Homo sapiens: one gene and its partner. The protein of the gene in region 2 purifies or fractionates together with the protein of the main gene of each other region. This does not show direct contact. Each region holds a gene or a part of one and is shown on either strand. Other genes may lie near its edges. The genes, in order: PSMA8 and SYCP1.

What was found.
Region 1: the proteins of SYCP1 (region 2) and PSMA8 purify together in Homo sapiens (affinity purification with western blotting, with the first as the bait; one study listed by BioGRID). This does not show direct contact.

What each region holds. Positions count from the first base shown.
Region 1 is NC_000018.10:26,189,160-26,192,990, forward strand, and holds part of PSMA8 (proteasome subunit alpha-type 8), read left to right. Parts: intron 1-3,159; coding exon 3,160-3,252; 3' UTR 3,253-3,831. UniProt on the Homo sapiens protein: Component of the spermatoproteasome, a proteasome specifically found in testis that promotes acetylation-dependent degradation of histones, thereby participating actively to the exchange of histones during spermatogenesis.
Region 2 is NC_000001.11:114,906,591-114,910,421, reverse strand, and holds part of SYCP1 (synaptonemal complex protein 1), read right to left. Parts: intron 26-3,831; coding exon 1-25. UniProt on the Homo sapiens protein: Major component of the transverse filaments of synaptonemal complexes, formed between homologous chromosomes during meiotic prophase. Required for normal assembly of the central element of the synaptonemal complexes.

The DNA of each region.
Region 1 (3,831 bases), on a different chromosome or scaffold from region 2:
TGATCAAAAAATGGGTGAAGGATTTGAATTTGTATGTCTTCTTTTCTCAAAAGAAGACATACAAATGGCAAACAGGCATATAAAAAGGTGCTTGGGCTGAGCTCTTGCTTGTAATCCCAGCACTTTGGGAGGCCAAGGCGGGAGGATCACTTGAGCCTAGGAGTTTCAGACCAGCCTGGACAACACAGTGAGACCTTGTCTCTACAAATATAATAATTTAAAAATTAGCCTGATGTGGTGGTGTGCTCCTGTGGTCCCAGCTACTTGGGAAGCTGAGGTGGGAGGATCACTTGAACCTGGGAGGTCAAGGCTGCAGTGAGCCATGATTGTGCCACTGTACTCCATCCTGGGCAACAGAGCAAGACCCCATCTCCAAAAAAAAGGTGATCAACATCATTGATCATCAGAGAAATGCAAATCAAAACTACAATAAAATATCATCTCACCCCAGTTAAAATGGCTTATATCTAATAGACAAGCTACAGCAAATGCTGGTGAGGATATGGAGAAAAGGGAACCCTCATACACTGTTGGTGGGAATGTAAATTAGTACAACCACCATGAAGAATAGTTTGGAGATTCCTCAAAAAACATAAAATAAAAGTACATATGGTCCAGCAATCCCACTACTGGGTGTATACCCAAAAGAAAGGAAATCAGTATATTGAAGAAATAGCTGCACTCCCATGTTAATTGCAGAACTGTTCACAATAGCCAAGATTTGGAAGCAACCTTAGGGTCCATCAACAGATGAATGTACGAAGACAATGTGATACTTACACACAATGAAGTACTGTTCTGCCCCCAAAAAAATAATGAGATACTGTCATTTGTAATAACATGGATGGAACTGGAGATCATTATGTTAAATAAGGCAGGCATGGAAAGACAGACATTGCATGTTTTTACTCATTTGTGGAATCTAAAAATCAAAACAATTGAACTCATGGAGATACAGAGTAGAAGGATGGTTACTAGAGGCTGGGAAGGGTAGTGGGGGGCAGGGGCAGGTGGGGATGGTTAATAGGTACAAAAAAATAGAATTTATAAGACCTAGTATTTGATAACACAACAGGGTAACTATAGTCAATAACAATTTAATTGTACATTTTAAGATAACTAAAAGAGTATAATTGGATTTTTTGTAACACAAAGGATAAATGCTTGAGGGGATGGATACCCCATTCTCCATGATGTGGTTATTATGCATCACATGCCTGTATCAAAATATCTCATGTACCCCATAATATATATACCTACTATGTACTCATAAAAATTAAAAATAATTTTTTGAAAAGGCTTCTTGAGGCTGGGCGCAGTGGCTCATGCCTGTAATCCCAGCATTTTGGGAGGCCGAGACAGGCAAATCGATTGAGCCCAGGAGTTTGAGACCAGCCTGGGCAACATGGCGAAACCCCGTCTCTACAAAAAATACAAAAGTTAGCTGGGCATGGTGGTTCACATCTGTAGCCCCAGCTACTCCGGTTGCTGAGGCGGTAGGATGGCTTGAGCCCAGGAGGCAGAGGTTGCAGTGAGCTGTGATCATGCCGCTGTGCTTCAGCTGTAGGCAGCAGAGCAAGACCCGGTCTCAAAAAGGAAAAAGAAAGTGAAAGACACTTTTTCAAAGGAGGAAATTATTTCTTCCCCAAGTAATACCACATCACTTTATTCAGGTTTGTATTGTAATGATCTATTTATATGCCAGTTTTTTTCCACTAAACTGTGGACTCCTTAATAGCAGGTAAGAATTATATTCTTCCACTTTCAGAGCCCATGGAACTCCTAGTAATTGCTTGATGGGTAAATTCATTTCATAAAACGTTCAAATAATATATTTTATGTAGATTATTGACAAATACAGATTTTGTGACACACATCTTTATAGGTGAAATGGAAAGAGTTCTGGAGTTGAAATAAGAATCAGAGACCTAATCTTTAATCCTTCTTTAATCTTTGGCCAAATATAATTTAGCTTTGTGAATCTATGTTTTCTTATATGTAAATTCTAGTGATGGACTAATAGCTAAAATCCTTTACATCTCTAATATCTTTGAAAATTTGCCTTTCCATAAAGTTGATCATTCATTTATCAATTTAATAGATACCTCTTTTCAGTATTAAGATCATTATATTTAGATTTTTGTATATAAATGTATTAACTTCACTGAAGTTAATAATTGCTGTCTTGGCCAGGCACGGTGGCTCAGGCCTGTAATCCCAGCACTTTGGGAGGCTGAGGCGGGCAGATCACTTGAGGTCAGGAGTTCAAGACCAGCCTGGCCAACATGGCAAAACCCTGTCTGTACTGAAAATGCAAATCTCTCTACTAAAAATAACAAAAATCAGTCAGGCGTGGTAGCACACACCTGTAGTCCCAGCTACTGAGGAGACTGAGGTGGGAGAATCGCTTGAACCCGGCAGCAGAGGTTGCAATCACATCACTGCAGTCCAGCCTGGGCGACAGGGTGAGACCCTGTCTGAAAAAAAAAGAAAAAGAAAATGGCAGCCTGGTCTCGAACCCCTGACCTCAACTGATCCACCCACCTCGGCCTCCCAAAGTGCTGGGATTACAGGCCTGAGTCACCAGGTTTGGCCAATAATTGCTGTCTTATAGCCGCAAGCATGTAACCTTGGATCTACTTGTGAACAGTACAACAGAAAATCAAACTACACTGCAAATTCTTAGAAAAATAAAACCTTTTTTGCTTTCTACTTAGACATAAAGTAGCATAAATTATCTTTTCCCATTTCATTTCGCTATTCTATAAACTGATCAAATTATTAAACCCTATCAGAGAATCACACAGTAGGGTGCAGTTGGGAGAGTTAAATAATGAGTCTTTGTTCATGAATAAAATTAAGCCTCGCATTAAAATGTTTTTGGAGTTATATGCACATATAGGATATATAACGCAATATCACCTTTTGTCCTGCTTTCTTTTTTAGCACAGTGATAGTAGAAATGTCAGAGATCTGGTTTTGCCCATAATTGTTATTGCTCTTAGACCTCTTGAAATGCTTCATTGTATATTTGAAGTTACAAAATATAAAGTTGTACATAGAAAGTATAAATTTATTAAATATTGGAATTCTTCATATTGTATTTACATATTATTCGTATAACTGACATTTGATCTTTAAATTTTTTTCTCTTTTCAGATGTTTAGTGCAAAAGAAGTTGAATTATATGTAACTGAAATAGAAAAGGAAAAGGAAGAAGCAGAGAAGAAAAAATCAAAGAAATCTGTCTAATTCTTAGGATGACCACTGGGAGGTCTTAATGTTTTGTTTTATTGTACTGCCTGAGGTTGTTTAGTGAAATTTTAGAGGAAAACAGTTATTTTGCAGCATTACATGCAGTACTTGTGTGATGTTTTGAGAATGCCAGATCTGTGGCTGTCTTCATTCTATTACATAGTCAAACATAGGTTTATGTGAAGATTTTCTTTGAAAGGGGATTTCAGTAATTGTTGAGAGCAGTCATAATTCCACATAAGCCTGAGACTCTATAATTTGTCCAGTGTCTTACTTACCTTCATATATGCAAATATAATTTTAAAAAATTTTTTAATTAAAAAAATTTAATAATTTGGTGATGTTTGAATATTGACTGTCAGTTAAGGACATAGCTATTCCAAATAAACTAAATATAATATTGAGCTGCATTTCTCAAAGAATGACAAAAGCATCCTTATACTGATGAGTTCTTAAAATTTTGTCAGAGCCTTCTTCATTTTACAATATTTTGTTATTTTTATTTTACCTTTTTCATTTTACAATATTTCGTTATTTTTATTTTACCTTTTTCATTTTACAAGTTGCAATATATTG
Region 2 (3,831 bases):
CATATAAAAGTGTTTCCTTTTCTCCCTATTTATAAACATTAACAAATCAGGAATGCCAAACCATACACATAGTGAAAGTAATCAAACTGCCCAAATGGAGCTGTGGAAAGAACTATGAGCTTCCCCCTGGCTAAAATTCTTTAAAAAGAGAAAATTAGTCAATATTAAGTAAATTCAAAGACTAAACATGATGACAGACAATTCAGTAGACACAGCCCTGGAACACAATAATTAATTGTTTAGTTACAGATGATTAATTTCTCATCATTCCTTCTACTATCCAACACAGCATATATTTATGAACTCACTTTTTACTTTGTCTTCCCAAGCATGACATCACAATGATTTTATAAAAGGCCTCACAATAAAAGGTCCTATATTATTAACCATAAAAACTACTAATTGTAGTTAAGGAGTTTGAATTTTATCTATAGACAATGTGGAATCATCATAAATGTTACTGTAACAATATATAATCCTATTTGCGATTTTAAAAGATAACACTAGCAATAGTGCAGAAGAAAGCTTAAGTAGGGCGAACCTAAAAACAAGAAAGCCAGTAATGAGACTACTGTGCCAAAACAAATGCAAGATGAAAAGTGTTTAAATTATATCAAGGACTGTGGAGACAGATTGATAACAATAACCATGGTTTCATGCTTTCAGATGACTTCTGTATGACCAGCCCTCACTAGATGCTTAAAATATATTTTCATTCTTTACACTACTCTATGGAAGTCAGATTTTTATGTCTCCATTTGAAGGATCAAAAAATAGAAGCAGTCTTTTAGCTTTCAGTATGTCACTATAATCTCATGCCCAGAGACCAACTCTCCCACTGAAAACTTCTATAAACTCTGGACAAAATACATAAATACATATAAACGTGTGTGTGTGTGTGTGTGTGTGTGTGTGTGTGTGTGTGTACAGCAAGGGAGAGAGAGGGAAAGAAGGAAGGAGGGAGGGAGGGCGGGGGAGAGAGAGAGAGAGACAATATATAACCTAAGGATTTTAACAAGTAAAAAAAAAATTAACACAAGTGGCTGGAAGAGGAGTGAGTTTGTCAGTTTTGGTAGCTTTGTCCCAATGGTGAAATGTCACTGCTAAGCAGTGTGGTATAGGCAGCTAAAACTACAATAGAAACCCCACCATCTCTCTTGCTAGAGGAACCTGGTAGAACCAGGGAAAGGAGCCCTGGGACCCACAACCAGCTGCCAGAATATAAAGGAGAAATCATACAGAACAAAGAACCACTGAAAGTAATCTCCTGATTCTATGTATGAATACTACACAAATTTAAAAACAACCCATGAAGCATACATTCATATACAGAGTCAAAAGTAGTACACCAAAGGCTCAGAGAATTAAACTAAGATTTGAAGCACCATTTATAGAAGGTGAGATAAAGTTTATTTTTGAATCTAGCAAACTGATAGATAAAACAAAAACATTTACATTATTCAGAAGAATGTAACAGAATCTACATAATATAACCTTCACAATGTCCTGAATATAATCCAAAATTATTCAACATACAAAGAACTGGTAAAATGTCAACATTCTCAAGGGAAAAGGCAACAGATATATGCTAACCCCAGTATAACCAAGATGTGAGAACTTTATCAGATGAGAACTTTAATGCAGCTAATTCAGTTTTGCTCAATCAGGTATAGGAAATACTCTTAAAATGAATAAAAAGATAGAAAATCTAAGGAAAGAAATAGAAAATAAGAACAAATGGAAATTTTAGAGCTGGTAAAAAAAAATTCATTGAATGCTCATGGGAGCACAATGGAGATTACAAGGAAAGAGACAGTGAATCTGACTATCAGAACAACAGAATCGATAGTCTGAAGAATACAGAGAAAAAACATTGAAATAAAATGAATAGCACCTCAGGAACCCGTGGAACAATATAAAAAGATCAAATCAATGTATAATTGTAATCTTAGAAGGAGAAGACAGCAAAAATAGGGCAGAAAAATATTTAAATGGCCAAAACTTCCCATATTTGAAGAAAGTTAAAAATTTACAGATTTATGAAGTGCAGTGAATCTCAAATATAATAATTCAACTTCACTTACATACTGCTGAAAATCAAAGTTAGGGAGAAAATCTTGAAAGCATGTGAGTCTCTCATTAGAAAACATGGAGGATCAAAGACAATAAGACATCATCTTTAAGGTGCTGAAAGAAACAAAACTGTCAACCCACAATCCTATAACAAAAAAAAAAAAAAATCCTTCCAGAATGAAGAGTAAATAAATAATATATTCAAAAAGAAAAACTAAGAAAATTTGTCAGCAGCAAAACTGCACTACAAGAAATACTAAAGGAAGTTCTTTAGGCTGAAGGAGAACAATATTAGAGGTAAACGTGGATCTTCAGGAAAAAATAAAGAATATCACAACTGGTAAATATTGCAATAAATATAAAAGATCATTTTTCTTCAAGTTATTTAAAAAACATATGACTACTAAAGCAAAAATTATAGCACTGTCTTGGAAGATGTAAATGCATGTAGGTGTAATATATATGACAACTCTAGCATAAAGGACAAAGTGGGAAAAGGACATAAATAGGGAGGCCGAGGCGGGTGGATCACGAGGTCAGGAGATCGAGACCATCCTGGCTAACACGGTGAAACCCCATCTCTACTAAAAATACAAAAAATTAGCCAGGCGTCATGGCGGGCGCCTGTAGTCCCAGCTACTCGGGAGGCTGAGGCAGGAGAACGGCATGAACCCAGGAGGCGGAGCTTGCAGTGAGCGGAGATCATGCCACTGCACTCCAGCCTGGGCAACAGAGCAAGACTCCATCTAAAAAAAAAAAAAAAAAAGTTTCAACATTTAACATGAAGTGGTACAATATTAACTCAATATAGACAAGGTAATGGATACATGCTGTAATCCTTAGAACAGCCACAAAAATAAATGCAGAGAAGTATAGATAAAATACCAGTAGATACATTAAAACGGAATGCCAAAAAATATTCAAATAACCCAAAAGAAGGCAGAGAGTTTAAAAGAGGAACAAAACAAAGGAGCAAACGGAAAACAACTTTTAAATGGTGAATCTAATCTAAGCCACATCAACACTTAAACAACAATTTTTAAAGATATCAATGGTCTAAATTCTCCAATTAGCAGTGATTGTCGGAGTGCATAAAGAAAGAAGACCCAATTATATGCAGGCTACATATAAGCACATATGTACAAATATAAAGTCAAATGTAGGTTGTAAGATATATCATGCAAACAACAAGCATAAGAAACATGGAGTGGCTATAATAATATGTTAAAATAGACTTTAAAACAAAAAAGTATTATCAGAAATTGAGGGCATTTAATTATAATCAAAGGGTCAATTCATCAAGAAGATATGGTAGTTAGATATAAATGTGAAGTTTATAGCAGAAGTTCAAAACACACGAAGCAATCACTGATAGAATTAAATAGATAAATAAACAATTCCAAAATCCTACTAGTTTTAACTCTTCTCTCAGTAAATAATAGAATTAGACCCAAAAATTCAATTAAAAACATATATTTGTACAACACCATCAGCCAACTGAGCCTAATTGACAATTACAGAACACTCTACCTAACAATAGCAGAATACATATTATTTTCAGTGCACATGGAACATTCACTAAGATATATCATATCTGATACATAAAACAAACCTTAAGAAATTTTTTACAAAAGTACATTCTCTGACCATAACAAAGTTAAACTAGGAAAGAATAACAAAAAATAACAGGAAATTCTCCAAATACATGGAAATTGAACAATAGACTTCTAAATGGGATCAAAGGAAAACCCTCAAGAG